Regions from separate parts of the Homo sapiens genome. Here all the other regions are linked to region 1. Evidence: fine-mapped expression QTL. A gene starts in region 1. Each other region holds a variant in brackets. All regions are shown on one strand. Distances are between the middles of the regions.

What was found. PIP is the estimated chance that this variant, and not a neighbour inherited with it, causes the effect.
Region 2: its variant is fine-mapped to the expression of SLC25A37 in whole blood (INTERVAL, PIP above 0.99).
Region 3: its variant is fine-mapped to the expression of SLC25A37 in whole blood (INTERVAL, PIP 0.95).
Region 4: its variant is fine-mapped to the expression of SLC25A37 in monocytes (Quach 2016, PIP 0.95).

What each region holds. Positions count from the first base shown.
Region 1 is chr8:23,525,392-23,533,498 of GRCh38, reverse strand. SLC25A37 (solute carrier family 25 member 37) reads right to left here and starts at 4,543. Exons shown (of 4, transcript NM_016612.4): 1 at 4,287-4,543. The coding sequence starts at 4,496. RefSeq lists enhancers at 3,440-3,509, 4,800-4,849 and silencers at 4,010-4,259, 4,310-4,669.
Region 2 is chr8:23,573,083-23,581,189 of GRCh38, reverse strand. SLC25A37 (solute carrier family 25 member 37) reads right to left here. Exons shown (of 4, transcript NM_016612.4): 4 at 5,727-8,107. Among named protein-coding and RNA genes, the nearest start is that of SLC25A37, 48 kb to the right of the region's middle. The variant C/T (reference allele first, on the strand shown) is at 3,586.
Region 3 is chr8:23,586,211-23,594,317 of GRCh38, reverse strand. No RefSeq gene overlaps it. Among named protein-coding and RNA genes, the nearest start is that of SLC25A37, 61 kb to the right of the region's middle. The variant T/A (reference allele first, on the strand shown) is at 4,167.
Region 4 is chr8:23,544,571-23,552,677 of GRCh38, reverse strand. The region is part of intron 1 of SLC25A37 (solute carrier family 25 member 37); the gene reads right to left. Among named protein-coding and RNA genes, the nearest start is that of SLC25A37, 20 kb to the right of the region's middle. RefSeq lists an enhancer at 1,833-2,334. The variant C/T (reference allele first, on the strand shown) is at 3,206.

The sequences.
Region 1 (8,107 bases):
AATGAGATGGCCACATGCAGCTGAAACGTGCCCAAGTGGAAGCCAGGAAAAGGTTTGGGAAGCACATTCCTCCCTTCCAGGTGACACGCACATCCCCCACCCCAGGTGCACACCCCTGTATAGTTTAAGCAAAGCAGCTGATTAAATCCTCCCATTCAACCCCAAATACCTCTCCCTACTAAAAAGCTGAGGCCCCCTTTGCTGTTCACAGTACTCTTGGGCACGCGCCTCCAAACCACGCTCCAGCCTGCCCCTCCCCAATTTAGGGCAGAGAAAAGTGGATGAGGTTCTCACACTCCTCAGGGTAGGCCTGAGGGGTACAGGCCATGGCTGCCTGGGGGTTCATGAAACAAGGAACAGGACTGCAGCTCACAAATACCCCTTTTTTGATTCCTCGTTCCAAATTCGCCTTTTAAGAAAATCACCTCTCATCAAAGGAGAGAAAAGAAGGGAGCAGGGGGATGTGAGGGAGAGGAGACAAGAAGGGAGAGAGAAAAATCATTATAGTTTTGTCCCAGGAACTAGAGCAATTTGGGATTTCACGCCCTTCTGAAGCTGAATGGCATGGACCGAACTGCACTTTGTTTGGAAAGCAATGAAGTGGGTGGGAGGGGACTCTGGCAGCTGCCTGCACTGCCCCCCAGCACCCTTCCTACCAGTCTGCCTGCAGCCAGGAGAAAACTCAGAAGAGGAGAAGTCAGAAGTTGAGGTAATGCTCTGCTGAGCTGGGCAGGCTGGCTGTGCACACCATAAGGTCAGCCAGGAGGCTCCTAGAGGGAACGCTCCGTGGTGCACCAACCTGGGAAGGAGGGCTCATCCTAGGAGAGTCACAGGCAGGGTTTCCCCCAACAGCAAAGCAAAAGAAGGGTTGTGAAAGGGTCAGCGGAAGTCCCCCGGCTTCAAATCTTTCCTGTTTCCTTCTGCCCCTGCTTTCCCCAGGCGGGACTCGGCATGGTCTCCGAGTGGTGTGCCTAATCTGGTTGGAATTTCCTCCTCCACCCACCTGGCATGCTCCTCAAGTCTTGAGCTCTCCTGATCAGACCAGGGGTTCTTGTATCCACCCCAAGTGCCCCTTGCCACTCTGGAACACCAGAAAGAGGCTCATGGAAAACCTGCCACCAGACCCCGCCTAGACAGGAGTAAGTCATTGCCACCATTTGGTGAGAGCCCTGCAGAGACCCTATACTCCCTCCCTGGGTATCACTTTGCTGCTCACTGTCATCGCAGGGGCAGCCAAAGGTCCCAGTAGACTGGCCCTTTATGGATGAATGAGTGCTCACATCCCACCATGGGAGGACCAAGGGAAAGAAGAAGACACAGGAAGCAGCAGGAAAGTTGCCAAAGGTCTTCCAAATACCCATTTCATAATCTCAGTGTTGCCTGCTGGGGCTCCAGAGATATTTTCTCAGGTTCAGTGGTTTTCATATTTGTTTGACCACAACTCCCAGCCAGAAGTACATTGTACACGTCTGTAAAATGCACTCAGAGACACACACACAACCCAAACAGAATTTCAACATTTCTCCCACTGCATGCCAGGCACACCCGTATTTTTACACTCTCACTAATAACTTCTTTTATTTATTTATTTATTTTTAAATGCAGAGTCCACTAATGGGTCATGGCCCACCATGTAAAAAACACTAGTTATTAAAGTGACACTGGGGATGTGAGGTGTGACCTCACGAAGAAGCAAATTTAATATTATAATGGGAAGCATCCACCAGGCCGACTTTGCACTTAGAACTGCAAAATAAGTAGCATCAGGTTCAGGGTTGAAAGTGACCAGCACAGAGCTCCACAGTCCACATTACCTAGGATAGAAAAAAGCCAGCCGATTCAACATTCTTATTTGTCATTACAAGATCAAAGTTAAAAATGGCGCCTTTCAAAACTGGAGAAAGCTTTCTCTCTTTCAAGATCCGATTTACATAGATTTGTTTTCAGCTGTAATAATTCTTTTGATATTTCAAGTAACATAAAAGAGGACGATGGGTGTTGTGTGTTCAGAGAAACGAGGCATGGGTTAAAAATGTGGAGAGGGACTGAGCAGGTCCACTGTCCCCACTTTATAGTGACAAAACTAAGGCACAGAACAGTGCCCGAGGCATGAAGCAAGTGAGAGCAGGGCTTGAAGCCCAACCCGGGTTTCTTGACTCAGTTACTCCCGGTCTTCGCCATCATCCAAAATACTTAAGAGGAACACAGGTGTGGTCTCCCCCAAGCCTTTCCATGATGGAGGATGCACCCCTGACTCCTCATGCTTGGCAGACAACTGTGCTGATGTTGGCAGACCTTGGCACTCAGTGGCAGCCTCAAAACCAACCCTGCACACTTCAGCATGGAAGGGCCCCTAAGGGTCAGTTATAATCCCAGAACCTAGAAGACTTCACTGATTAGCTAACCCACGCCTTGTTTTACAGACTTGTCTAGGAAAACCAGACCGGCTCCTTCTACCATTCACACCATGTTAACCTGTCCACAGGTGAAAACTGCTATGGAAAGTAATACTAAGTATACAGGTGACATCTGAACCAAAACATATCAACATGTATGGGGCAGGGAGAAACTAAACACAGATCACACAATTTAAACGTGTGAGAAACGCCTCTTGAGAGTGTCAAAGGGTGCTCAGAAGGCACAACTAATTATTTCTAATCCTAAAAATAAGCTAAAATGATGCTCTAAAGTGAACTCACTGTGGGGTTCCCGAATAGAACATTCATCTCAAGACACCAGTAGGACTAGGGCCTGCTCAGATAACACCTCCCTGCTCCTAACTTTCCCCAGACTCTGCCCAGGGCAGTTGAGACAACAGCTTCAATCATGGAGAATTTTATTACATTTGAGGGATTCTTTCCCATACAAATGCCACCTGGTATCAGTCCAGTGTCTTTCCTGGAGATGAGAACCATTCCTCTAACTCCCCACTGGGACACTGGAGGGACATATGGGTGATGGCTCAGGCTTAGGTCCAGCAGCACCTTGGAAGCCCATGTCTTTCCTCACTGGACTTCTGCCTGTCCAGACACTGACTGCTGGCTCCAAGCGAGCTCCCCGGAGCCGGGAAAACCCTCTGAGTTATACTTTCTGGCCTTCATACCTGCTCATGCAGGACCAGCATCAGCAACAAGATAAAGCTGCTGGGGGTGCCTCTGTGGGACCTGCCTTGCAAAATAATTGCCACCTAGAGAGGCCTCCGAATCCTCCAAAGCACACTGCAGCTGCAGCCAGAGGATAGGAGGTGGTGTAGGAGCCTGGGCAAGGTAATCGGTTCGCCTCTCTGCGCCTCAGTTTCTTCATCTGTTAACCCCCAGGGCTGTTGCATGAATTAGGCGAGTTATGCCTATAAAAGTGCAACGTGTAACAGTCAATACTGGCATTACTTCCTGCACTACTCTATCCTGGCCCTGGGGTGTTCTGGGCAGGCTGACAGAGGGCAGGTCTCAGTCTACCAGGCAAAACGCACCTAGTAACGCTGCCTCTTTACAGAAATGCAGTTAAAACTACCGGGGCAAGTGACAGACAGGGTTTAAAGGAAACTGAGTGCCTCTCACACAATCCACAGCAAGGGCTGTAAGGCACAAGCCCACCCACCTCCCCGCAAGCAAAAGGAGAAGGCAAACGTCATTGCCTCCCGGCGGCTCGGCGACCCAAAGTCGGGGGAAGAAGTGCAGGAACCCTCAGAAAGGGGATCCCACGGGCCGCTGTCGAACCGGTAAAGAGCTGCCACTAGTCGAGAGAAGACTTGCCGGCCCCAAGTTCCCGAAATAACCCGGGGAGCAGCAGCCACACACCAAGTCCCGAGGGCGCGCGGCCGGGCCAGGGCCACACGTTTCTCAGCTCCAGCGTGGTGAGGGCTTCCCCTGCGGGGAGCTCCCTCGGAAACCGCGCACGTGTGGGCGGCCCCAGCCAGCCCGAACGGCCAGCGTGGTAAGACTGTGCAGAGCTTCAGCGATCGCGTCCCCCGGGAGCCCAGTCGCCGCCGAAGCCAGCGGTGCTCGCCACTCCGCCTCCCCCGCCTCAGCGCCGCCAGCAGCCGGGGCCGGGCACGCGGCTGGAGCAGCGGGCGGTGCGGGGCGAGGACCGGGCACCCTCGCGGGGTCGGCGGAAGGCGCGGCGCCCAGGCTGCGCGCAGCTGCTCCTGGGGCGACCCCGGCCAGCCGCGGTCCTGGGGAGAGCTCGGTTTCGGGACGCTGCCCCGAGGCTGCCGGCGCGCGGGATGCAAATGCGCGCGCGCGCTCCTTCTCCGCTCGTTGCGTCCCCGAAGTCTCCCCGCGCCTCACCTTCACCGAGTCCACCGGGTACATGACCGAGTGCTCCAGGATCCCGGCCATCGCTCCTGCTGTCATGTGGGTGGACACGGAGGCGCTAGTCGGCAGGTTCTCGTAGTCCTCCGACCCGGTGGCGTCCTTGCCGCCGCCGCCATCTCGGCTGTCCCCATCCATCCTCCGCGCCACCGCCTGGCTGCCCACGCTCCCGCTGCGCAGCTCCATCCGCCAGCTCGGCGGGGCGCAGGAGGCTGCAGGAGGTGGGCAGGGAGGGGGAGGGGCGCAAAACTTCACTTCTTAAAGTGGGAGCCACCTCCCCGGGGCCGCGGCGCCTGACGCCATGGCGGGCTGGGGTGGAGCGCAGCGGCCAGAGACACCAATCGCCGGGAACCAAGAGGCCGGCGGCCGCCGCGCCATTGGTGTGCGGGACAGTGGGGACCCGCCTCCCTGTGTGACGTCACCGTCCCGTGCACATTTCCAAGCAACCGGACGGGGGCGAGAGGAGACGTGGGGTGGCCCGGAAAGTTGTACTATCTTGAGGATGGGCTGGTCCGCGAGGGGCAGGGGAGGTCATTGGGGAGGGGCCGCAGTGGGGTATGCCCAGAGCTGGAGGCATGGGTGACAGTGTCTCGGGGAAAATCCGTCCCCGTGGCGGGTGGGTTTGCAAACAGAATCGCTCAGTGAGCTTTGGCATTCCTAAGGCCTGAATTCAAACCTCAGGGGCCCGTTCTAGACTGCTTTGTTGGAGAGACCCCCATTCATTCGAAATTGTTTCTCTCAACCTAAATACATAATGCAGAGCTAAATGTGTTCCTCTTGTTCTCACCGAGAGACCGAACCCACCCTGCCCTGGACCGAGCAAGGCTATAAGGAGTGACCAGGAGGGAGCCCCTCTGAGTAGGCACCTCCAGGAAATTTTCTTTGGGTTTGATAGGCCCATAAGGTCTGTAGAGGCCTGATCTCACAGTTAGGAGTGTGAACTGGCTGAGAGTAAAATCTTACAGCCTTGCCCCTGCCTGTCTTAAGACTGTGGTCACCTAGTTCTTAAAGTCGTCCTAAGCTGGCCTCTTCAATAAAGTGTAACCCAGGCTGTTTTAATATTGTTTTGCTCCAGTCTGGGGAAAAAGGGAGAAATCAGAAAGTAGGGGAGGGACCTGTCTGCCTCTGGAAGTGTCCGTCTAAATTGCGTGTTCCAGGGCTTAAGATGACTTGGGCTGATCAACTTGTAGGCACCAGGGCCTCCCTGCCTTATCTAGACAAGGCTTCTCGTCAGGAAAGCTGGATCCTGAGATATGAAAGGGTGGGGAAGACCCTGAAGAGGCTGAGCCTACTCTCTGCCCTCACCGTGATCAGCATCCCAAGCAGCTCTTAGGGATTTGAGATACAGTAATGTGAGCATGGGTAGAGGTCAATAGAGGCGTCAGGACCAAGAGCACTGTTTGCCTAGTTTTGGTAGCTGCAGATAGTAGCTGGCAAGCTGAGTGCTAAGGATGTGATAAGTAAAAACAGGCTCTGTGTTTTTACTTAGCCATCTCTGTAATGGCTAGAGAAAACTCTACTTTTGTCAAAGGTCGTTTTTAAGAAATACTGATCAGAAGCTGTTGATCCTTATTTTTAAGTGGATGCCCTTTAAGCATTAAGTCTGTAAGAACCCACTGCCCCACTTCTGGGAATGTAACAAAAACCCAAATACACAGGAAGCTCTTCTTCAAAGCATTCCTTAGAGCAGTAAATCATTGGAAACAACCTAAATGGTCAACCAGAAGGGAATGGCTAAGGAAATTATGATGTGTGCATAATATTAGTGAAATATTATGCAGCCTTTACAAGTGGAATTTACATTACACGACATGGACGATGATTATAATGTAATGTTAGGTGAAAAAAACAAAACGAAATTCTATAACCATTGCATTCACAAAGATGTAAATGTGCTCAGGAAAAGAATCGCATGGTTACTGTGCTAGTGATGGAGGCTTATAGGCAACTGCTTTGACTTTATTTTTCAGACTTTAAATAATACTTTTATTATTTCTGTAATTTAAAAATAAAAAACCATTCTTTTTAGGAAATATATACCATATTTACACATACATACACACATCTATATATAGAAGTATATATGTATAGAATATAGATATGTGCATATGTATAAGATATATAGATAGGATATAGAATATACACATATGTACATATATAAAATATGTTGATTTGTGTATATAAATATATATAGATATATGTGTATATATAAATGTATTTTTTTACTTAGCCTCTCAGCATTCATATCCATGTGTATATATAAAATATATATACATTTTATGTATAAATATGTACATTTTATATATATAAATTTTATATTTTATGTATGTTTTATATAAATTTTATGTTATATATATTTTATATAAATTTTATATTATATATTTTATATAGATTTTATATTTATATATATTTATATATTTTTTATATTTATATATATTTATATATATTTTATATTTTATATATATTTTATAATTTATATAAATTTTATTTTATATATATTTTATAATTTATATAAATTTTATATTTTATATATAAGATATATACACGTCTATATATTTTACACATATTTAATATATACCTATGTATATATGATATATACACCTATGTATACATATATACATCTATGTACATATATACACCTGTTATATATGTATGTATATTATATGTATACCTATATTATATATAATACATATGTATAAGATATATTTTATATATATATACACACACACACACACACACACCTCCTAATGGATGAGAAACCCCCTGAACTTTGCAATGGTGATACCAGTGGAAAGAAGTTGCCTTTTGATGGTTAAGAGAATTCTTAGCAAATGTGAATATGCCCATAATCTTCACAGACGTGATTTTTGTTTAATTTCATTAAATAAATGTTAGAAACAGTTGAAAATCTTTGGAATATTGATTATTTAACAGAATTCAATATTTTTTTCTCCCCACCTATGGTAGATATGGTGGTTTGGCACTTAGCATCTTGCACTCCTCCTTGGACTGCAGTGGCCAGAACATGTAAAGCCACATTTCTCAGACTTTCTTGCAGCCAAGGGTCTAGCCATGAATTATATTCTGGCAATAGATGAATTGGAAAGATCTGGAAAGTGAACATGAGCTGAAGCTCCCTTCCTGTTCTTTGGTGTTTTCTGCTGCCTAGCAAGGTCACAGACACTTGAGGCAGGAACAGTTGGGGCGGGCAGTGGGTTCCCCACTGCAACAGCATGGCAGTGTTTGGTCACCAGATTCATGGATGCTGAGAGGTATTTATGGAATGAGGGGGTGCAGCAGTGATAAGTGGCAGCCTCCCGATCCCCGCACCGTGACTTTGTAGGTGGCCTTCTGATTCCTTGCCTTTGAGGCCATGGCAGAGGTAGCCAGTCCCTTGGGAAGCCAGTTTGGCAGTGTGGATCTGTGCCTAAACCCCTCCCCACGGTTTTGTGCATAGCAGTGAAAGGGCATAGTAATGAAGGCGCCATCCCGGATGTCACAAGGCAGCAGCCGGTCCAGCTCCCAGACCTCTAGGGAAGGCATGCTGCGAGAGGGTGGCATCCCAGACAGCATAACCCAGTGCTTGGGCCACACTGCCATCAGGAAGGGAGCAGCTCTCTCTTTGAAAGGCAAGAACATGGCAACCAGGAGCAGAGGAGTGGCAGCTCATTTGGTCCTCTCCCATGGGGCAGGCCAGGAAGCTCAGAATGACTTGTTGCTTCTATCGGAGTCTTTCGTAAAGTTCCTGAACGTTGTAGTTCTGAAGATGTCGTCATGCAGCCCTGGCCTAACTGGAA
Region 2 (8,107 bases), 48 kb before region 1:
CTATTTACATTAAAATTTGCACATTGATATGGTTTGGGACTGGGCGGGGTGGCTCACACCTATAATCCCAGCACTTTGGGAGGCCGAGGCGGGCGGATCATTTGAGGTCAGGAGTTTGAGACCAGCCTGACCAACATGGTGAAACCCCATCTCTACTAAAAATACTAAAGTTAGCCAGGCGTGGTGGCACACACCTGTAGTCCCATCTACTTGGGAGGCTGAGGCAGGAGAATCACTTGAACCCAGGAGACGGAGGTTGCAGTGAGCTGAGATCATGCCACTGCACTCCCGCCTGGGCAACAGAGTTAGACTCCATCTCAAAAAAAAAAAAAAAAAAATATATATATATATATATATATATGGTTTGGATTTGTGTTCCCACCCAAATATCATGTTAAATTGTAATCCTCAATGTTGGAAGTGGGGCCTGGTGGTAGGTGACTGGATCATAGGGGCAGATTTCCCCTTTGGTGTTGTTCTCATGATAGTGAGCTATCACAAGATCTGGTTGATTAAAAGTGTGTAGTGCCTCCCACCTCGTTCTTTCTTCCACCTGCTCTGGCCATGTAAGACAAGCCTGCTTCCCCTTTACCTTTCGCCACGATTGTAGCTTTCCTGAGGCCTCCCTGGCTATGCTCCCTGTACAGCCTGTGGAACCGTGAGCCAATTAAACCTCCTTTCTTTATAAGTTACCAGTCTCAGGTATTTCTTTATAGCATCAGTGCAAGAATGAACTAATACACACATTATTTATTTCTAAACTTTATGCAGACACAATCAGGGAAAGATTGAGGATGTGCTGGTATATTTCACCAGCTGCTTGCATTAGGCTCAACGTAGAAATCTTGGGATATATATTTATCACCTGTCAATCCAAGCTAAAGGTGTCCATCAAGAGAATATTTTCACTGTTCAGCAGGCAGCAAGAACTCCTTCCACGAACTCACATACTGATGAGGACAAACACCCTTGGTACATATCTCCCTTTGTTCTTTTTAAACTCCCTCTTCCCTTAAAGGCAGCCACCCCAAGGGGCAGCATGACAATAATGAAGAAGCCAGATGTCCACAGTCCCTCTTTCTGCAGCTCTGGGCTTCATGAGGTTGCAGTCGGGTGCCCATTCAACACTGAGAGCACTTCACAACAATAGAAATACACCAGGACTCCAAGGCGACACCCAAGCTTCAACTGCTTCAGGTTGAAGACTAAAACATCACTGGTATGATTTTGATTTATACTTTTTGTCACAGACGAGTTTCTGCTGACAGTGGACAGGGGTTGGGCTGTCTGTCTCTGCTAAAGTGGCCCTTGTGTCCTCTTAGCAGTAGTGCTGGGTGCTCTGCCCAGAGTCTCACTTACTATGGAAAATGAAACATCAAAGCTACCATAGGTAAGTATGAGCATAAGGAAAGAAGAGCTTCTTAAAGAAGCTATGGCAACAGGAACCTGGAAGTCTGGAATTGTGTAATATCCATGGCTTCATAAAAGAGAGGTCACATGTTTACCAAAATAACATTACCTTTAGGAGGCAAGGCCAGAGAAATGGGGAAGCTCAGAAGTATCCTAAATTTGATAAATGTATTGGGAATAAAGATCTTATGGTATGTTGCTGGGGACCGTTAAAGAAATTTCTTTCCTACAAAAATACCAGGACAGCCAGGATTGTCTATAAACCATTTAATTTCTTGATAGATATCGTTTGTTTTCCAGCTTTTCACTTTCATGAACAAGCCTGGGATGTGCAGTTTTGAGTGTTTGTCTAATTATTGCCTTTAGGTAGCCTCTGAAATATTATGCTAGATACAGTAGGAATGGTGCTGGGTGCAGGGGGTCAGGGGAGGGGGAGGTGTGGAAGCAGCTGAACTTGGTGAAGGTGACATTTAAAAGGGAATCCAAAAAGGCAAGAGAGTAAGTGCAGGGAAAAACAAACCGGGAACAAAGAAGACAAGAGCAGGGAGAGACAATGTAGGTTTTTGTTTTTTTTTTTTTAATAGCTTTGGTTGCTTATATTTCACTCCTAAGCTTGTAGAACTGATTACTACCCCTCCTCTGTAAAAGCCTCACCTCTTGGTTACTTCATAACTCTCTGACCACTCCAGCCTCTCCTGGTTCCCATTTCTCTCTTCACTATTAAATGTAAGCCTTCCACGAGATTGTTTTTCTCCCTAGGGACTCTCCTCTGCCCATGGCTTTGGCCACCACATCCCTTGGCCTATATGCCAGGTCCTTTGTTCCAGTTCCAGCCTTTCTCCTGACCACCAATATTGCATTTCCTTCTGGGGGTCTCCACCTGGATGTCCCACAGGAGTTTCAAGCTTAACAGGACATCAGAAGTTTGTTACATACAACGAACAATAACTGTCACTCTTATGCAGAATGCGGGAAACAGTAGGCTGGAGGGCTATGGAGAAAACAGGAGTGAATAAACCACAGTCTCTGCCCTCACTGGGCACATAATTCTGGGCAGAAGGCAGCAAAAATGCAAAGTGAGGTCAGCCATGGCAGGTTGGAGGCCTGTCAAAGAGGCTGTAGATACTGACAAAGAGGAAAGAAAGATCACATAGACAGGCAAATTAGGAGGAGCTCCACAATGTGGTAGTAAATGCTATCTTCAAGGCAGCCTGAAAAGGGGACTTGAATGAGCAGAGAGGAGGTGGCAGGAAAGGAAGACATTCCAATGGGAACAAAGTTCTGCAAAGAGCACAGCACCACCCTGTTAAGAAGATTAAGACCTCAGGGTCTTACACAACCATCCTGCTGACCTATTCTGTTTCTCTCTAGTCATTTCCTTACACACGAAGCTAAACTGGGAACTGCCATATGCAGGAAAGCCTATTAAATTCAATCAACAATGAAGAGCCCTTGAAGGTCTTAAGCAACTGAGTAACACGGTAAGCCTCTGGCAGCAAGGGGGGATAGTCTCTTAAGAATGGAGGACAAGTTGAGATCCAAGAGATCTCCAGCAGGCCACTGGACATTGAAATCTGGAGTTCAGGAGAAGAATCGGGGTGCTACAGCCCCATATCTAAGAATCATCTTCCAGAGGAGGGCAGATCAGCACCAAGGGGGTGTGGAGAGACAGGATCCCCAGCGGCAGAACCTTTCCAAGCAGCCATACTTAGGTGGCCCGGAAAGGAGCTGAAGCTGGTGAAGGGCCAGAGAAGGTAGTCATAGAGGTGGGAGGCCAGCAGAAAGCAGGGAAATGGAAGTCAAGTAGGGGAGCTAAAGAGAGAGCCCTCAAGTGTTGTGCATGTTCAAGGAGAAAGACTAGGGAGGGACCCATGGACTTAGAGATGTGGAGTCTATGCCCAGGGAGGAGGAGGACTAAAGACAGACTCATGGACTTGGAGATCAGGCATCTATGCCAAGAAGGAGCAGGACTAAGGAGAAACCCATGGACTTGAGATGAGTTTTCCATGCCCAAAGAAGAGGAGGACTAAGGAGAGACCCATGGACTTGAGATGAGTTTTCCATGCCCAAAGAAGAGGAGGACTAAGGAGAGACCCATGGACTTAGAGATGAGGGATCTTCTCTGCCGCCATGTATTAGTCCTCACCGCCAGGTCTTCCTACTCCTCTCAGACAG[C/T]CCAGCCTGTTCTCAGCATGCCCTAGAGTCCTGCGCCCCCAGGCCTCTGTTGACTTCACCTCTACACTCTCATCGATCCAGTCCCACTCATTCTGTTTCAGTCTCCTTCACCTTTCTCTTAGTCATCCCTCTTCTGGACAATTTCACTGTGACATGGAACTGACCATCTCCTGGCCTCCTCCGTATTTCTTCTTCACTTGGTCCTGTACACTTTAGCCAGATGAGTTTCCCTAGAACCAAGCTCCAATCATGGTGTCCCCTGCTCAAATACTCTTCATAAGACTCCCCATTACCTACTGCTTAAAGGTCAAACTTCTTACAATGGCAGTCAAAGCTCTTATGTGCAGCTTACTTACCATGAGGGTGTCTCCTACAAAGCCCTTATGGATGCAAACCAAGCTCTTTTCTCCCAAATTGCTCTTATTTCTCTTAGGCTACTCACTGCATTCAGACTTAGACCAGAGGCAATGCTTTGTTCCCTTGCAAGCAATCATAACCCACCTCCACATCTGCCCAGTTGGCTGTGTCTTTCTCTTGTACAAGACTAGGCTCATTACTTCTTCTCTGAAATGTTTGTCACATTAAGTCCCCTCCTTGGGTAGGAGCAGAGGTCTCTCCTGGAAGAGGTAGCTGATAACTAGAAAACATGCAACTCAGTAAGGAGACCTTGCCCCTAGAGGAAAGGTATACCTTCCTTTCATGGCCTTTTTAGGGCTGGAATTTGAATGTGGTCGTGCTGGAGAGGGCTCTTGAGTGATAGAAAGATGCCTCCATGAGGAGGCAGGTGGCAAACTAAGAGGGGCACCACAGAAGGGCCCCCTAGGTTGACACTGGGTTCTACTTTTCATATTTTCCTCTCAGCAAATCTTCACTGAACACCTAGCACATACCAAGCACTATGCTATGTGCCAGCAGTGGTGTGCTGATGAACCAGCTATTGGAAAAGCAAAGGCCTTGATAAGTAGCGCTTGACGATTTCTGTGGTGTAAATATTCCCACTGTTGCTGATTTCAAGCTACCAACATGGTAATATGGAATGTGAAGCTGGGAAGGAATGTGCGCTGTACAACCTAGAGAGCTGGTGCAGGGCCAGCCCCAGCACACCACTGGCTGGGAATAAAGCAGCAAATAGGACAGACAAGGCCACTGTCTCATGAAGCTTGGTCTAATGGGCACAAAGCTACTGTTTTGCTTCCATGGCTGACTTTGCTACCATCTTGATGGGTCAAGATCTGATTGTCTTAAGGAGTTTGCATCTCCCCTTGTACTCTTCTACTAGGCTGTAAGGCCTTCGAGGACAGGGACCACATCATATACTTCATTCTGTCCCCAGCACCTGCATGAGGCTCTGCTCATGGGAGGCACAGCCAATTTGTTGGCTGACTGATTCCATGGTGGAGGGAGAGGGGGGATATCTGTTGAATGAATCCATATCTACTGGAAGCAGACCAGCTGTGCCGCCCACCCCAGAGGAGGGGAAGCAACCACAAGTTGGAGTAGCACAGCATTGGCCATAGGTAAATTACAAAACAGGGAGTTTATCCCAACGCTCCCCATCCGCTAACCACCACCCCTTTCCACCTCCAGGCACCCCTGCATTGGCCAGGTCTCAGGCCTGACCTCAATTCTGACCCTGACCATGGCAGGCCAAGGGCTTCAGTGGTCATACTGAAGGTGGGTGCTCAGACTTTCAAACTTGTGGGAAGCATCAGAGTCATCCCTGGCTTCTCAAAGGGGTCCAAACCTTCCCTCCTCCCACCTCCAAAAGAGGTCACGTTCTCTTGCTTAAGCTGAGGTGTAAGACAGAGAAAACAGGCATGAGCACAGCACGTTCCAAAGAACCACTTGTAGCCTGCCACACACAGCCAGGCTCTCACAATGAGAAAGAAAAGTGCCACCCTCGCCAGCATGGTGAGCCAAGCCAGTGGGAGGGCTCCCGCTCCTGCCCAGCAAGACAATGCAAACACCACCATCAATCTGCTTGCCCTGGGGAAATGGGGTTGCAGGGGCTGTTCCTATCAAAGCTGCAGACCTTGGTCCTTAGTGCTCAAGAGGAACAAGCATAGGCCCCGTGAAGGACGTCCCCTCTTGCCATCCACTCCCTTCTCATTTCAGGATTCCCACCACAGAGCCCACAACACTTCGAAGATCAGTACTTTATTTTCTCTAGCTCCAGTGTTTTGCAACTGTAGCAGCATATCAGAAACATCCCCACACAAAAACACACAATTCTCCCCTTCTTCAAAGAGCTGGCAACAATTGAGAGGCAGAAACAATAGTTACTACAGGCATTTGAGAAATTTAAGAAATAACACTTGCTCACCCTTGAAACATACATTGTTCGTCTTGCAGGTAGGAAGCAGCAGTACATTTGTCATTCAAAGACACAATCATCCTTAAATAAAGTTAAATAAAACCTTATTGGCATAACAATGTGTTGGAGATGCAGCTTTATGGGGACTTTGGAGGAAGGTGCTTGGAATAAGACATGAGCATTTTAAAAGAAAAAAAAATGAAGAAAGCAAACTACACATAGAATGTAACCCAGTAAATAGATTCAATGCAAAGTTAAGAAAACATAGTCATGGGGAGAAGATTTCACCCATTTGGAAAAAATCAGTTTATCGTTCTAAAATAAAGCTTTGATCTACAGGTAGTTGAACCTCAAATCATGGTTTGGACAGAAGAGCTACTCACACACACATCATGTAAAAGTACGAGTGCTGTACTCAGGTGGCACTAACTGGCTGCAGATGTCACTCCAAAGACACCAATGACTGAGTACGTGCAAAGGTTACACTGAATTGGTCACCAGGGTGGGATAGTGGGGTGGGGAGGCCTCTTCCTATTTTGCACTTTGCATTGTCAAAGTCACAATAAGAAACCGGACTGCAGTCTGCGTGGAGCAACAATACCAACTTTGGAGATAAAGGCCAGATGGGAAAGTTAATTTCTACAAAATTAACAAACACTTGTATCTGCTCAGTGCTTCACAACTTTCAAGGCTTTTCTCAACCTCCTGATGACCAGGCATGCAGGCTGGCCAAGTGGCTCCCCAAGCTGACTCATCCCTCATCACACAGGGAGGGGCCTGCAATCAGGGCCCACAGAGCTCCAGGGTCCGGTTTTTGCCTTTCCTTTTTGACAGAGTCACTCTGTCGCCCAGGCTGAAGTGCAGTGGCACAATCTCAGCTCACTGCAACCTCCACCTCCTGGGTTCAAGCAATTCTCCTGCCTCAGCCTCCCAAGTAACTGGGATTACAGGTGCCTGCCACCATGCCCAGCTAATTTTTTGTATTTTTAGTAGAGATGGGGTTTCATCATGTTGGCCAGGCTGGTCTCAAACTGCTGGCCTCAAGTGATCCGCCTGCCTCGGCCTCCCCAAAGTGCTGGGATTACAGGCATGAGCCACCACACGCCACCTTCACCTCTCCTTCTTGCATCCCTCTAACCAAAGGAGTGCTCCTAGAGAAATCAAGTTTATTTTCTAAACACCAGTGAAAGCAAAATCCAGTAGGAAATACCTTGCTTCAGCGTGGCATATCTTAAGTGGACCAAAAGGGGTGGTAGGATAATTTTTTTACAAATTTGCTTTAAATTCTACTTTGAAATTTAGAATTTGATTTTTTTCCCCTCCATTTGCAGAATTTAACACCATTTAACACGAACCCAAGGCAGGTTGAGAGCGGAGATGTAAACATTTTCAACAGTAGCGTGGACTTTACGGCTTTCTACATCCCCATGTGGGTTGAGGCTGCAACTGGTTTTGGGGAGTGGGGGGCAGAGCAGGGAGAAGGCGTTAACTGCCAGATGGGACAGGGCAGCAGCCAAGCCCCACAGCCCAGCTGCAAAGGGCTGTTCACGGGGCACACGTGGGAGGTACCCAGTTTGGCTCTTTCCCATCCCTGATCTGAAAAAGGAACTCCACTGACTGATAAAATTCTTCATCGCTATTAGGGCAAAATCTACTCCCCAAGGCACTGTGTGCATGGTCCCAAGATGGAAATTCTCCACGTGTTACTTCCTAGGCAGTAGCACCACTCAAAAGAATCCAGGCCTGCGCCTCCTCGGTAAGATGCACCACGCTGACCGTGATGGGTGGCGGCAGGTCAGGACCCGGCTCACTGAAATGCAAACATACATGAGCTTCCTGCTCATTTTTAAAGACAAGCTCCGGTGAGGGCTCCAAATCAGAGACAGTGCAGCTCGTCTCGTCGGTATTCCCTTGCACGGCAGCCTGGCAGAGCACCAAATGGCACAGCTAGGGAAAACGGGCTTGTATTTTCTCTGAGCGGCAATCTGACTCGGCACACACCATTTCAGAAAGCGAGGCTGCGAAGCCTGTGTTCTCGGGTGACGCAGAGCAGACAAGGATGCAGAATGGCTTCTGGAGAGGGGTCTTCCGACTCGGGCATGAGGGTCCAGGTCAGACCTCAGCCGCAGGGCCCTAGCAGATAGGCCTGGCTCTTGTCACATGCAGTGAGAAGCTGTGACATGAGAATTAATGGTTGGGACAAGACAG
Region 3 (8,107 bases), 61 kb before region 1:
CCATCAGTCAGTTTCACTTGTATTAGTCATTCCATATTCACAACCACTTTTTGAGCTTGAAAATTAGTATCCTCATGTTCCAAACAGGGAAAATAACCACAAAGGTTCTCAGCAACTTGCCCAATGTCCCTTCTCTAGAAAGTGGGCTTTTGAACCCAGGTCTCATGGCTCTGAATTGCACCATCTTCAGCTTAGTCATGACTCCTGCAGGCACAGCAGAAAGTCATGGCTATCTTTCCTGGCATTTAAAGTTAGATAAATATTGGCCAACTTCAATGATTATTTAATGTTCTGCCATTCTTAGATTTGTTTGTATCATTTAGGAGATACTCATTCTTTTTACATCTGTATCTTATTGCCCAAAATGGCCCTTATTCAAGCTGTAAAAGGTACTCCCATGTAAGTGCTGTTTATTTTGCTTTTTTTTTAACTACTTTCTGTGTTCCTTCTTAGCCTTGCCTATCATGAGCAATCTCTCCTCTTTATACCTAGATCGCATGCCGTCTGTAGAATTCACTTGGCACTTGGAACCCAATGTCTCCTTTTCATTCCTGCTGATCTGATCTCTCTCAAACAGCACTCTGGGATCCTCCAAGCAAAGACTGAATCTTATGCTTCTTGCTGTCTCCCTTAGCAGTGTGGTCTAATAGTAAATGGGTCCTGGTTTCCAGATCCCTCTGATGCTAGCCAGTTATGTGATCTTGGGCAAGTCACCAAACATCTCAGTCTCTTTATTCATGAAATGGAAACAATAGTTGTCCTGCTTACCTCACAGGATTATTACAGAGATGAGACAGCAAGTCAATGTCTAGGTAAGTGCTTTGCAATCTAGAAATATTATGCAATTACAGAGATGAGACAGCAAGTCAATGTCTAGGTAAGTGCTTTGCAATCTAGAAATATTATGCAATTATACAGGGTTATTAGCCAAAAGTATTGCTGAGTGATATGGGGAGGAGTAGGTCGCTAGGGTCTCCTGCCAAACAAAGGAGTTTATAAACTGTGACAGGGACCACTACTGCACTAGGCTTCCCAAGATCACAGCAGGTACATGAACCAATGGATTGGATTTGATGCGAGAGTTGATTTGGCAGTCAGCCTTCTAGGAGAGCAAGGAAAAATTACCAGGCAGTGACACTCTTGTGAGCCAGCAGATCTCCTGGTCCCTTCAAAAACTCAATCCCTGAGTGGTACCATTGGATCACCAGACACCTAGAATATACCGAGAGCTATTGCCAACACTCAAGCACTTACCTTAACAAAACATCAAAGGGGCAAGCACAGATGCTGGTACGTGGAAAAGGCACTTTGCCAAATCTTTTCTTAAAGCCCCAAATTGTCAAGGTGAAGAAGCTGTGAGAGTTGAATGGGCTAAAGCACAATGAATAGTTCTGGAGGAAGCTGAGGCTGGGGAGAGACTGAGAGGGAAGGAGGCTCCAAGCCCAGGATGAGGGGCAAGAAGGGAAAAATCAGATGCTTCAACTAGTAAATCTGGGCTTAACAATTCACTGGGGAAATGCTTGCTATGGAAAAGGAATAGTACATTCCTTTTCCACATACTAAGCTATTCCACAGTATAGCTCAAAATGGAAGCAAAGCCACCACCTGTAATAAATTGCAAGCAAAGAAAGACACCTGGGCTGTCAAGATCTAACATCACCAAGGCTAGCCCACCACTCCCAGTCTAAAACCTATCTCCCTGTCCCCTAGTCTAATACCTACTATGGCCAGCAAGCCTCTTCATTCTCTCAGCTCTTTCCAAAGCCCCTAGCTTTTGTTCACAACAGTCCATCCATCTTTCCTAGAATGGCCCCCCCTTGGTATATCCCACTCAAAGCCAGTATGGCTGCACTTGACAACTGGGCAAGTCTCTCCTCCTGCACAAAGCCTACTCCATCCACCCCAGTACCTTGGAATGCCCCACTCCACTGAGATCATAGAAGACTTGGTGCATGCATCTCTTGTAGAGCAAGCTTTTCTAGAAACACAAGTGAGCAAATATGCATGTGTTTCTAGTTTGAGTTCCCCAAATATCAGAGCCTGAGTCAAGGACATGGGTCAAGGACTTTAGTGCAGGCTGTTTATTTGGAAGACGATGCCAGAAAGCAGAAGAGTATACGACGTGAGACAGGGAAGAAGGAACCAACCAAGGATGCATTATTAATGGTCTACATCGTGAGCAACTGGGCCTCAACCACATTGGAATCCTCTGAGGAACCACATAGAATGTGCCTGGGAATTGTCCTAACTGAAGACAGGTGGCTGGACCATATGGCCATGGTCTTGCCTTCATTGTTAGGGTTGCCTTTGGAGGCTTTATCTTGCCCCTTTTCTTGTGCTTTCAGGTCACAACTCACACAATGGTGTATGTCACCTCTTTGGTGTGACACACCTCCTTGGGCTTCAGAGAAAGCCCTGAGGCTGCGAATCCATGGGAATCAGTTTGATGCACCACAAGTCACCCCAAGATCTGCTGCAGTGAGCACACACATGCTTCCTCTTGGCAACAAGATCATAAGCTCCTGGAATGCAAAGATCATAAAAGGAGAAAGAAAACCAGGCAGATGGCTTCAACTGTAGACTGACATCATTTTGGCTAAAACCTTGAGATAGTTTGCTCTTGGTTGTTTTCAATTGATGACATTTTATCAGTCCCTTTCCCCTATGTTCTCACTGAGGAATAAAACCATAGCATTATATGGCAAAACCATAGCATTATATGGCAAAATCATATAAGGAAATAATACAGGAAAAGCTGTGCCTTCATTCATAGTAGCAGCAACTGTGTCTATCACCATCTTTAATTCAGAAGAAAAGTGAGAGAAATCACACCTTTTTCCATTAGATCCTTTGCTGGCCCCCATCTTGCCAGTCCTTCAAGAAGCAAGGTCAGACCCAAATGACCAGACTGACTCTGGGGAAGTCAAGTCATTTAACCTGTCTGAGCCTCAACGTCCCGATGTGTAAAGCAGGGACGGTAACTGTGCTGACACCACAGGGATAATGTGAGCATCACATACGGTAATGTTTGAAAAGACTTTGCAAACTGTAAACCGACATTCAAATGTCAGCTATTATTACAGCAGATTTGGGTCCCAGATACTTGCCCTGCAGCAATCCCTGCTGTGCCAGCTGGACAGGATCTTGCTTCCTTCTCTGAAAAATCCAGCTCAAGTTTTACACCACCTAAGGACACATGTCCCATGCTGCCCAGGTTATTATTTATGTAGGTGCTTTGTGTGTTTTTCAGGGTCCCCCACTGACCACAGGGCTTTGTGCTTCACTTTTTTTTTTTTCAGCTGAATTTTAGACTCACACTTTTTAAAAAATCCATAAGAATTGTTCTCAACTTCCTCTGGGGAAACTACAGGCACCTCAGCATGACCTCAGGGCCCTGCCCAGGTGGAGACCTGGCTATCCCAGTGCAGGCCAGACCACTCTCCTCCTCTTACACTCTGGCCCCTCACACTGCTCCTGCGCCTCCTGCACCCTGTCTCTCCACGTGGCAACGCCTCCTCCTTGACTTCCTCCGTCCAACTCACACTCATCATTTTCAAGTTAGTTTCACCCCATTCTTCCATGCAATGCTTCTTAGGCCTCTTCATACACTCATTCCGTAGGTTTTTGTTTGTTTGTTTTTAATTTTTGTTTTAGAGACAGGGTCTCGCTCTGTCACTCAGGCTGGAATGCAGTGGCACAATCATAGCTCACTGTAGCCTCAACCTCCTGGGCTCAGGCAATCCTCTCACCTCAGCCTCCTGAGTAGCTAGGACTACAGGCATGCGTCACCATGCCTGGCTGATTATATTTTTTATTTTTGTAGAGACAGGGTCTCACTATATTGTCCAGGCTGGTCTCAAACTTCTGGCTTCAAGCCACCCTCCTGCCTCAGTCTTCCAAAGTGCTGGGATTACAGATATAAGCCACTGTGCCTGGCCAACATATATATATATATATATATATATATATATATATATATATATATATATATATATATATATATATATTTAGTATCTAGTATGTGCCAGTGCTGTGCCAGTGCTGTTCAAGTGCTGTGCAATGGTGAACCTATCTCTCTTAATGCCTTTTCTCACAGATCTAGAGACCTTACTCGTACTACTGGTCTGAGACTTAGACAACGTGCCTGTGAGTTTTTCCTTTACGGC[T/A]ATTTTATGCATGCACTTTGCGTCTACCCCACCTAAAAGCTAGGTCTTTGAAGAGGGCTTCTTTGCACCTTCCTACTTGCAAGCAAAACAACATGCAGCATAGGATAAGCATATGTTAAAAAAGTGCATGACCCCACTCTCAGCCATAGAAATACATGGGAAAAGCTATGATAAGTTTTCTACACAATGATCAATTAAAAACATTAAAAACGTAGGAGGATGCCTTAACACAAACATGACTCAACTAAATACAGGAAGGTTTAGTTCTAGGCCCCTAGACAAACACAAGTTAATGTAATTTCCTTTACAAATGCTGCCATGGGGACAAAAATCTGTTACAATAAGAGTCCAGAAGTTGAGACAGATGGAAGTTTCCAGCTTGAGAAGTGAGAGATGAAGGGGTGTGGCTCCCGTATTAATGAAAATCAGATGCCACCTTGTGGCCAGAAATCAAAATTCAGGGATTTTGCTGGGGAAAAGAATTGAGTGCTGTTGAGAATCAAATAGAAAACTGCATTCCACAAGGAACACAGATTATCCTAGTGAAGACACTGTATACTCACATTTACCCTCAAAAGACTTCTTTGCTGTAATCTATGACCTCCTTATAGCCATAATCCTTAAGTCAAACACGTACTACACTCAAAAGCTTCCAAAAGCCCTGCTCTAATCGATAGGACCAGCTGTCACCTCAGCTAAAATGCAGTGTTGATTTATCCCAACAAACTCTCAGGGAAATATTGATCTCTGAAAGAATAAAGATGACATCACAGATATTTTTCAGGGAAATTGGGTGAAACACAATTTTCTTTCAAGAGCAAATAAACTCTCAGAGACAAGGGAATGAATATTTTACAAAAAGTTGGCTATATGAAATCATTTTTAACCAATATTTTATAGGCATATATAAGTGACCAATTTTGACAGGACTGGGAAGTTTAGGATTTCTCACAAACTAAGAGCTACTGAATAGTAAAGATCAAAATAAACATAATCATGCCTTATTGCAGATTCCTAAACTTTTTTAAAACTACAGACCAATACTCTCATGAACATAGATGCAAAAATCCTCAACAAAATATTAACAAATCAAATCCAACAACATGAAAAGAATATACACCATTAACAAGTGGGATTTATCCCAGATGTGCAAGGCTGGCTCAACATTTACAAATCAGTTAATGTAATCCAGCACATTAAAGGCTAAAGAAGAAAAATCACATAATCATATCAACAGATACAGAAACAGCATTTAACAAAATTATATGCATTCATGATCAACATTCTAAATAAACTAGTAATAGAGGAAAGCTTCCTCAACTTGATAAAGAAAATCAACAAAAAACCTACAGCTAATATCATATTTAATGATGAGGAACTAGAAGCTTTCTAAATAAAATCAGGAATAAGGCAAGGCTGTCCCCTCCCACCACTTCTTTTCAACATTGTGTTGGCCGGAAGTCCTAGTGAATGCAATAAGACAAGAAAAGAATAGAAAACTAAAAGCTATACTGATTGGGAAGGAAGAAATAAAACTGTCTCTGTTCACAGATCACATAATTGTTGATGTAGAAAATCTAAAAAAATCAACAAAAAAACACCCTGGAATAAATAAGTTATTAAAGCAAGGTTGCAGGACATAAGGTTTATATACAAAAGTCAAACATATTCCTATATAGCAGCAACAAACAAATAACATGTGAAATTAAAAACACAAAACCATTACATTAGCACCTGCCAAAATAAAATACTTAGGTATAAATCGAACAAAACACATACAAAATCTAAATGAGAACTACAAAACTCTGATGAAAGAAATTTAAAAAGAACTATATAAATGAAGAGATATTTCAAGTCCTTGGATAGGAATGTTTTATACTGTCAAGATGTTAGTTCTCCCCAGATTGATCTATAAATTCAATGCAATTCCAATTAAAGTCTCAGCAAGTTATTTTGTGGATGTCAACAAACTGATTCTAAAGTTTACGTGGAGAGAATAAAGATCCAGAATAACCAACTCAATATTGAAATATTGAAGGAGAAGGGCTGAGCTCAGTGGCTCACGCCTGTAATCCTAGCACTTAGGGAGGCCAAGGCAGGCAGATCACGAGGTCAGGAGTTCAAGACCATCCTGGCCAACATGGTGAAACCCTGTCTGTACTAAAAATACAAAAATTAGCCGGGCATGGTGGTGCGTGCCAGTAGTTCCAGCTACTCGGGAGGCTGAGGCAGGAGAAACGCTTGAACCTGGGAGGTGGAGGTTGCAGTGAGCCAAGATTGCACCACTGCACTCCAGCTTGGGCAACAGAGTGACACTTTGTCTCAAAAAAAGTAAATTAAATTAAATTTAAAAATAAAACAAAACATTGAAGGAAAAGAACAAAGTCAGAGGACTGTCATGATGCAAATTCTAGTGTTATTAATAAGCTACAGTCATCAAGACAGTAAAATCACTCTTTCACCAAGTGGTATTGGTGAAAGAATAAACAAATAGATCAATGGAACAGAATAGAGCCCAGAAACAGATCCACATAACTACAGGCAGACCTTGTCTTACTGCACTTCACTTTACTGTGCTTTGCAGAGGTTGTGTTTTTTATAATTGAAGGTTTGCGGCAACCTTGCATGCAGCAAGTCTCTCAGTGTCATTTTCCCAACAGTATGTGCTCCCATTATGTCTCTGTGTCACATTTTGGTAATTCTCACAATATTTCCAACTTTTTCATTATTATCATAGCTGTTATGGCAAGCTGTGTTCAGCGATCTTTGATACTACTATTGTAATTACTGACCTATGTCCATATAAGATGGCAAACCTAATTGACAAATATTACATGTGTTCTGACTGCTTCACTGACCGGCTGTTCCCCAATCTCGTCTCCCTCTCCTCAGGCCTCCCTATTCCCTGAGACATAACAATATTGAAATTAGACCAGTTAATAACCCTACAAAAGCCTATAAGTGTTGAAGTGAAAAGAAGAGTTGCGCATCTCCCACTTGAAGTCAAAACATAGAAATGATTAAGCTTAGTGAGAAAGGAACGTCAAACGCCAAGGTAAGCCCAAATATATGCCTCTTGTGTCCAACAGTTAGCCAAGATGTGAATGCAAAGGAAAAGTTCTTGAAGGAAATTTAAAGTGCTGTTCAAGTGAACACACAAATGATAAGAAAGCAAACAGCCTTATTGCTGATATGAAGAAAGTTTTAGTGGTCTGGATAGATCAAACCAGCAACACCATTCCCATAAATCAAAGCTTAATTCAGAGCAAGGCTGTAAGTATCTTCCACTCTATGAAGTCTTAAAATTGTGAGGAAGCTGCAGAAGAAAAGCTTAAAGCTAGCAGACGTTGGTTCCTGGGTTTAGAGAAGAAGCCATCTTCATAACATAAAAGGGCAAGATAAAGCAACCAGTGCTGTTGTAGAAGCTGCAGCAAGCTATCCAGAAGATCTAGCTAAGATAATTGATGAAGGTTGCTACACTAAACAGCAGATTTTCAATGTAGATGAAACAGCCTTCTTTTGGAAGATGCCATCTAGGACTTTTAAAGCTATAGAGGAGAGTCAATGCCTGCCTTCAAAGCCTTCAAAAGACAGCCTGACTTTCTTGTTAGGAGCTAACGCAGCTGGTGTCTTTAAGTTGAAGTCAATGCTCATTTATGATTTCAAAAATTCTAGGGTCCGTAAGAATTATGCTAAATCTACTCTGCCTGTGCTCTATAAATGGGACAACAAAGCCTGGATGATAGCACATCTGTTTATAGCATGGTTTACTGAAGGTATTAAGCCCACTGTTGAGATCTACTGCTCAGGAAAAAAAGATTTATTTCAAACTATTACTACTCATTGACAATGCGCCTAGTCACCCAAAAGCTCTGATGGAGGTGTACAAGGATATTAATATTTTACGCCTGCTAATACAACATCCATTCTGCAGCCCATGG
Region 4 (8,107 bases), 19 kb before region 1:
AAGTAACGTACGTTCTGGTTGGGGAAACTAGGTGCCATGGGGAAGGGGTTGGGATAGGATGGGAAGGGCGTCAAACAGTCAATAAAGACCTCCCAGGTAAGACAGCGTTCCTTCTGGGCACGTGGCCTGGGGTAGCAGGAAAAGCCAGAGGGACCAGCTTTGAAGCTCATCCAGTCACTCAACCATTATATAGAGAGCTTCTACCCCACGCCAGCCACATGCCTGAGAGCACAAAGACAACCCCGGTTTCCACCTACCACAAGGTCGAAATCCTATTCTATTTTTCAGCTATATGAACTTGGATAAGTAACTTAACTTCCCTGAACTTCAGTTCCCTCGTCTGTAAAATCCCCTAACCATGCTTCCTGAGATGAACGAGAAATCCTTGTATTCACCTAGTGGAGTACAGTAGGTACTCAATAAATGTTTATCTTCACCGGAACTATTTTTAGAAAGGCTCCAGTATATTCCCTACCTGGTAGGGAGAAAACCACCACCTAGGTTAATCAAAATGGCTTAAATTATCATTAAGAACCACAGAACTAGCTTAATCTTGCTAGAAGGTGTGGGTGTTTTTCTCTACTTGCTGATAAATGGCCTGTATGGCCCAAAGAACAGTATTGCAGGTTTGAATTGAATCCCTCCCATCGGACTACAGAAGAAAATGGCTAAATCAAACAATAGATCCTGGAGTCCCAGGAGGAGGCTACCAGCCACAGGGCACTGGTGTTGGGAACTCCAGGTCACAGTCCCTGCAGCATCACAAGGAAGGGACAGAAATAAAACCCCATCCTGACCCTAGGTACCCCCCAACACACCTTTCAGTTTCTGATGGAATATATAGGCCCAGGACCTCAAAGCTGGAAGGACAGGCTTGGAGACCCCTCTGTATCTAAATCCTAGCTCTGTTGCTTCCTCCTCAATGTGTGTCCTTGGGCGACTCACTTCAGTTCTCTGCCCCCGTTTTCTTATCTGTAAGTGGGGCTCCTAATGGCACCTACTGCCTAAAGTCTCTGTGAGGATTCAAGGAAAAGCCCTTTGCATGGGGTCTGGTGGACAGCTGCCTGCTGCTTTTATTTCTGCTTTTTTTTTTTTCCTTTGGATAAACAGCAAAAAAGACGTCATTCTTAGCAATGACGTCATTTTTACCAATTCCTTCCTGACTCACTGCCTAGCAGCAGGATCTGCCCTGGTTGGGAGCACTCTCACCTGTACTCACTAGACACAACACTGGGATGTGGCAGGACCACCTGAGCAGCCCTTCCCTTCAGCTGCCCCAACTCACAGAAGGGAAACCAAGGCCCCAAAGAGCAAGGGGACTCGCACCTGGTGGCCCCCTAAGGGACTCTGACCCCTCCCCATTCACCTTTCTTCACTAACCATTTCTAAATGGATGGCCTAGGCTGCTTAAATTAATCCTGATTATGTAACAAAGAAAACTTAGATAGCTGGCAGAGAGGTGGGGCAGGGAAATCACTATTATCAGTTTACACTGGCACAGAGGCCCAGACAAAAGTGCTCTGGGAAGTTCACTCACCTGCTCAGAGCCAAGGGCAGCTCTGGGGACCTTTGACCAGTGCTGAAGTCCAGGCCAGGGCTAGGCAGGGACCTTGAGGGCCAAGATTCCCGACACTGCTGACTGGTCTGGTGTGGCCAAGTTCATACTATGGAAAAGGCCCTCCCTGCTGCTGAGAGCTGGCTCGCCTCTGAACTATAGGGAGACCAGCCCTGGGGGCAACAGCCAGAGGCCGCCCAAGTTCAGCTATAGGACTGGGCACCAAGAAGCCCATGCTCCACAGCAGCCCTGGAGGACCTGGGCTCCCGCCAGCCCGTGGGTGCGGGCATGCTCTCTGGTCCCTTGGAATCTGGGTACTACAGGGCACAGATATTTACACCAAGTGTGTCTCACTAGACCAAACAGCAGTGCTCCCCAAACTGTACACCTAGGTAAGATGGACACAGCCCTGTTCCAAGTTAGAAGACCTAAATTCTGTCCAGCTCTGCCACCCAATCCCTCAGCAACTGCACAATCATTTCACCTAGCTGCGCGTAAGCTGTCCACACTGGACAGGCCAGGGAGCCAGGCACCTCAGAAACCCATGCCGTCTCCCAAGCCAGGTGTGGTCCTCCCAGCTTCTACAAATGCAGTTCCCACGCCCTTGGCGGAGGCCACACCTTCTAAAGCACACCCCGCTATTAGCCTATTATCCACAGAAGAAGGGATTTTTAAAGCAGTCCCGTCGCCAGCCTCCTCTTGCTCATTCCTCCACGTATAATTATACCAAGTGATGCGTCTGCATGTGACTCCCATGAAAGGTCAGAGAAACGTGAAGGAGGGCGGCAGCACTGTGATCTCGGAGCCAGCGCCATGCCATGCTCACTAAAACACGTGCTCAATAAATGACTACCACGGATTCAGAGATGAACTCAATTCCACCCACAGGCAGGTAACAAAGCGGGTTTTTGTTTTTTTGTGTTTTTTTTTTTTTTTTTTTTGAAACGGAATTTCGCTCTTGTTGCCCAGGCTGGAGTGCAGTGGCTTGATCTCGGCTCACCACAACCTCCGCCTCCCGGGTTCAAGCGATTCTCCTGCCTCAGCCTCCCAAGTAGCTGGGATTACAGGCATGTGCCACCGCACCCAACTAATTTTGTATTTTTAGTAGAGACAGGGTTTCTCCATGTTGGTCAGGCTGGTCTCAAACTCCCGACCTCAGGGGATCTGCCCGCCTTGGCCTCCCAAAGCAGGTATTTTAAGTCCTCCTCAAATTCTGCCTGCTGTGGATCTGTCTCCCCTAGCGCAATGCACCTGGCCACAGTCTGGGGCCCACCCCACAGGTTAACAGCTGGGGATGTAAGCCCCATCAAAGCTGGGCTCTGGAATTTAGAGATGCCAGGGGGCAAATGAGGGGTCCAAATTTCCCAGATCCTACCAAAGCCAGATTTCCCACAAAGGCTTCTAACTTGATAGTGACTAACCACGTGGTGCCAAGTCACAGCTCTAAGCCACAGCTCGAAGGGATGTTCTTTCTCCACACACCTTTCACCTTTCACACTGATGACAATCACAGAGAAAGATGACAGGACACCAGATGCACCAGGCTTGCCGTTCTAAGGGTCTCAGGGAGAAACACCAGAGGAAACAACCGCAAGACTCGACTTTCAGCCTCCGGGACCCACTTGCTGAATTTATGCTAGACAATAGGTA[C/T]AAATTACTTCCGAAGCTTTTGGAGGAGTCAATTTAAGTTGTATTGGATGCAAAAGGTAATAGCAGGAACCTTCCATCATGAGTGAGATTTTTACGCTAAAACCCTCTCCCTGGAACCAAGAGCTCCGGCATACAATTTAAACCAAAGCCGTCTGGCCAGAAGGGTTTCCAAAAGTGAGAGGAGGAGGCAGGGACCAGAGATGAGTGACTCCCCAGACCACAGAAGTCTCAGCTGGTAAAACTACAGGATCGTTCTGCAAGAAAACGCTGCTACTACCTAAATGTCAGCGCAGTGTTAGGGGCTGCTGGAACTGAGGGAGCAGGTGTCGTCTTTGCCTTCAAGGAGTTTATAGTCTAGTAGAGGAGAGAGAGAGTACTAAAAATCCTATCGATAAAAAATTCCAAACTCTAAATGCCATGAAGCAAAAGTAGAAGGTGCAATGAGGGCAAATGCAGGGGGACCTCATTTAGATTTGGGGAGGGGTCCTGGCAGTGACCACTGAAGGTGAAGTTAGGGCAGAGGTAGTGACAGGTGGGATGTGGACAGAGGCTCCGAGAAGGCTGGTGTCACCTGAAGATGAGCCTGAAACGAAGTGTAGGACATACAGCCCATGCTGGGCCCTGAACACCAGACAGAGCAGAGAGAGAGTGTTTTACCCTTAATGCTGTGTTTCCATCTATATGGTCCTCATCTCTTGCCTTTGGCCAGGCGCAGTGACTCATGCCTGTAATCCCAGCACTTTAGGAGGCTGAGGTGAGCAGATCACCTGAGGTCGGGAATTTGAGACCAGCCTGACCAACATGGAGAAACCCAGTGTCTACTAAAACTATAAAATCAGCCGGGTGTGGTGGTGTATGCCTGTAATCCCAGCTACTTGGGAGGCTGAGGCAGTAGCATCGCTTGAACCCAGGAGGTGGAGGTTACAGTGAGCCGACATTGCGCCACTGCACTCCATCCTGGGGGGGCAACAAGTCTAAAAAAAAAAAAAAAAAAAGCCCGGACGTGGTGGCTCACGCCTGTAATCCCAGCACTTTGGGAGGCCAAGGCGGGTGGATCACAAGGTCAGGAGATTGAGACCATCCTGACCAACATGGTGAAATCCCATCTCTACTGAGAATACAAAAAATTAGCTGGGCGTGGTGGCACATGCCTGTAGTCCCAGCTACTCAGGAGGCTGAAGCAGGAGAATCGCTTGAACCCGGGAGGCAGAGGTTGCAGTGAACCGAGATCGCGCCACTGCAGTCCAGCCTGGTGACAGAGACAGACTCCATCTCAAAAAAAAGAAAGAAAGAAAGAGAGAAGAAATGAAGTGAATATAAGAGGAGACCGTTTCTCACTGCGAAATCTACAGGAAATGCAAAACACCATGGCAGGGAGATGCTGCAGGGAGGCTCCCCAGCTCCCCAACCCCATCATTCCCACGGATGCTCCTCTGGAATGATGGGCTAACCCCATCTGTGCTGCTGGCAGTGCGGGGTGACCTTGGCCATGCCGGCTGACCCCTGGATGACTCAGCTTCCTGGTAGTGAACTTGTGAAAGGTTCTGGCAGGAAGGAGTCAGAGAGCTGTAAACAGAGCCTTCCAGAAGCATCTGCCACACTTCTTCCCTTGATTCCAGGGCGGGGCTGTGGCCGTTCAGCATTTCTGTAATTGCCCGGATGGATGATTTGCAGTCTTGAAGTGTTGTCGTTGGAAGTTACAAGTATGTTAAATAAACTATCATTTATTTCTAGGCAGACACCTTGGAATGCAGGGGCCCAACATGGTACATGGGCCGCTGGTCCTTCCCACCACTGCTCAGCCCCTCTGCAAAATTCCACAGCAGGGTCTTCCTAGCTTCCGCTGCAAAGCAAAAGTGCTTGTGAGCCTGTATTTTACACCCAAAGTTGAAACAGGGAGTTAAAGTTACACTGCCCTGTGAAAAGAAGGAGTGGAAATTTTAGAACTGGTGAGTTCCCGAGAGAATCATGTAGTGTTAGTTCAATCTTGACATTTTATAGACAAAGAAACTTAAGATGTAGACAAGTGTTTTTCCCAGAGTTGCTTGATTGGTGGGCCCCTGGTCATCTCAAGCTAATTACAATTCACCCTAAAATGCAAATCCAAGACTTATATGTGTGTATCTACAGAAAGATCTGCTTTCGCCTTGCTTCTAGTCCTTTCCTTCCCTGCCCTCCAGTCAAGCAACACCATGAATGGTTGGTTCTGGATTGACAAATGTTCTCTGTGGCTCTCCCAGTCCCTCCCTTACACTCGAGCTACTCAGGTGAGATCCGAAATCTGTTTTCAATTTCAAATCACTCACTTCTGGTAGAAGCCCAGCTTTGCAGTAACTTGTGGGTTGTAGGGTCTGAAAGAGAATTTCAGAAACTTCCTTATGATTGATTTATCAGAAAAAATGCAAAAGATTCTTGGAAGAGACCTCAAGGGAATTTGAAAACAAGAGTTCTTATCCAAGGCCAGGCAAAGCGTCACCAACCAGCCTGCTCCCAACTCCCAGAAGCCTGTGGGGGGAGCAGTGCTAATTCCAAGGATAAACGGAACCTGCCACCACCTAACATTGTACTAATACGCACTGCACCCCAACCCCCATAATAGCAAATTACAGTTCTAACTCCTTCTCTACTTCCTTCCAAAATTTGAAAAAAAAATTTAAAAACAAATAAGTAGCTAAGAGTCATTCCAACTTGTAGATGAATTTTTTTCTTGTGATTTTATCACCTGCACAATTAAAAGTCATTTCTGAGCTGATATTTTTGAAGCTCTAAGGGCTAAATACAAATCTACCTTAATTTTCTAAGTAAGGCAATTTAACACTTCACCCTTCCTGGCCCAAATATATATATATATACACACACACACACACACATACACTATATATATATACACTATATATATATATATATATATATATACACTATATATATATATATATATATACACCTATATATATATATACCTATATATATATATACACACACACCTTAAAATTCAGTTATTGCCTGAGAAGCCAAGGTTCAAGAAAAAAAAATTTTTAAGCACAATTTCATTAACAGAGAGATCTCCAGTCTTACTTATGTACACTTGAGGTTTCTAACTCCTTTCACAGATAACCCTTCTCCCCACACAGGTCATTTTCTGTTCTTTTATTTATTCATTTTAATATTTTTAGAGACAGGATCTTGCTCTGTCACCCAGGCTAGAGTGCAGTAGCATGATCACGGCTCACTGCAACCTCAAACTCCTGGGCTCAAGCAATCTTCCCACCTCAGCCTCCTGAGTAGCTGGGACTACAGGTGTGCACCACCACACAAAACCAATTTTTTTTTTTTTCTTGAGACAGAGTCTTGCTCTTGTTGCCCGGCCTGGAGTGCAATGGCATGATCTCAGCTCAATGCAACCTCTGCCTCCCGGGTTCAAGTGATTCTCCCGCCTCAGCCTCTCAAGTAGCTGAGATTATAGGCATCTGCTACCACACCCAGCTAATTTTTGTATTTTTAGTTGAGACGGGGTTTCACCATGTTGGCCAGGCTGGTCTCAAACTTCTGACCTCGTGATCCACCCGTCTTGGCCTCACAAAGTGCTGGAATTACAGGCATGAGCCACCGCGCCCGGCCTATTTTTTTATTTTTATTTTTAGAGTTAGGGTCTTGCTCCGTTGCCAAGGCTGGTCTCGAACTGCTGTCCGCCAGCAATCCCCCTGCCTCAGCCTCCTGAGTAGCTGGGATTACAGGTGTGAGCCAGAACACTCATCTACATTTCCACAGGGCATTTTCTATGCTTCTATCCTGACCATTTCTTCTGAGTGACAGCTTGGCATTGTCTAACCACCCTGAAAAAGGCCCACACACGTGCTCCTTCAAAGCACCCAGCAAAGAGATTTTGTAACAAAGACCCCCTGTGCCAGGGAATCAGTGGACACACAAATAGAGAGGACAGCAGGTCTGTGCCCGTCACCGCACTGGCCTGTTGGAGAAACAGGACTCGGTTTCCAAAGCTGTGAGATCCAAGAGCTTCTGTCTACACCCTGGACTATCATGGACTCCAGTGGGAAAGTCCCCAAGCTCTCATCTCAGGCCCTTTACCAAGCCCAGCTGACTGTGCCCCTGGCATTTGATAGCAGGCCATCTCTGAGAGAGGAAGGCTACAAGGAAAGAGAGAGGACAGGAAAGTGTCCAGCTCTCCAGTTACCTTTCAAAAGAGACAAGAAGTGACACACGAATCTGAGCCTCCAGAGCAGGCCCTGGTACTACAAGATCCCAGGTCCATCTCTGACCTTTGGAAGGCACAGTTGTCGCCTACACCATCCTCAAGTCTCTCTTTGCCCTACAAGTTGTGACCTGGACCAGGAAAGCTCACTCAGGCAAACCCTAAACCTGCACACGTCACATGAGCATGTTTTATTTTTAGCAACTTACCTGGCCACTGCTCCACCAGCCCCTACTGCCACCTATTATGAGCCAACGATGAGCAGAAATGCCTCTGATGTGACCGCTTAGCCTCCCTTCCTCCTGTTTCCACCCTCCTCGGGTCCTTAGTTCGACAGTGAAAGTTCCCACCTGGGAGGAGGCTGGGCTTCTCTGAAAGCCACCAGGCAGTCAAACAGGGAATTAAGATTTCAGAACAGAGAGGAGAAGAGCTGCCACCTGATGACCCCAAACCACAGACACTTTCTCAGCTCAGAGCAGAACCCCAGATTAGAGTGTCAGTGGCATGCAGGCACCCTGGGGATGGCCAGGCACCTTGGAAATAGGCTGTGATGTTCTCAGGGACACAGAGAATCATACAGTTTAGTTGTAACATCCACATCTCCTTCAGGTCTAGATAGAGATACTGAGATATTCCTTCCTCGGGGGGCCTTTCCCAACTCCTCCCCGTGAGGTGCAGGATCCCTGAAGACT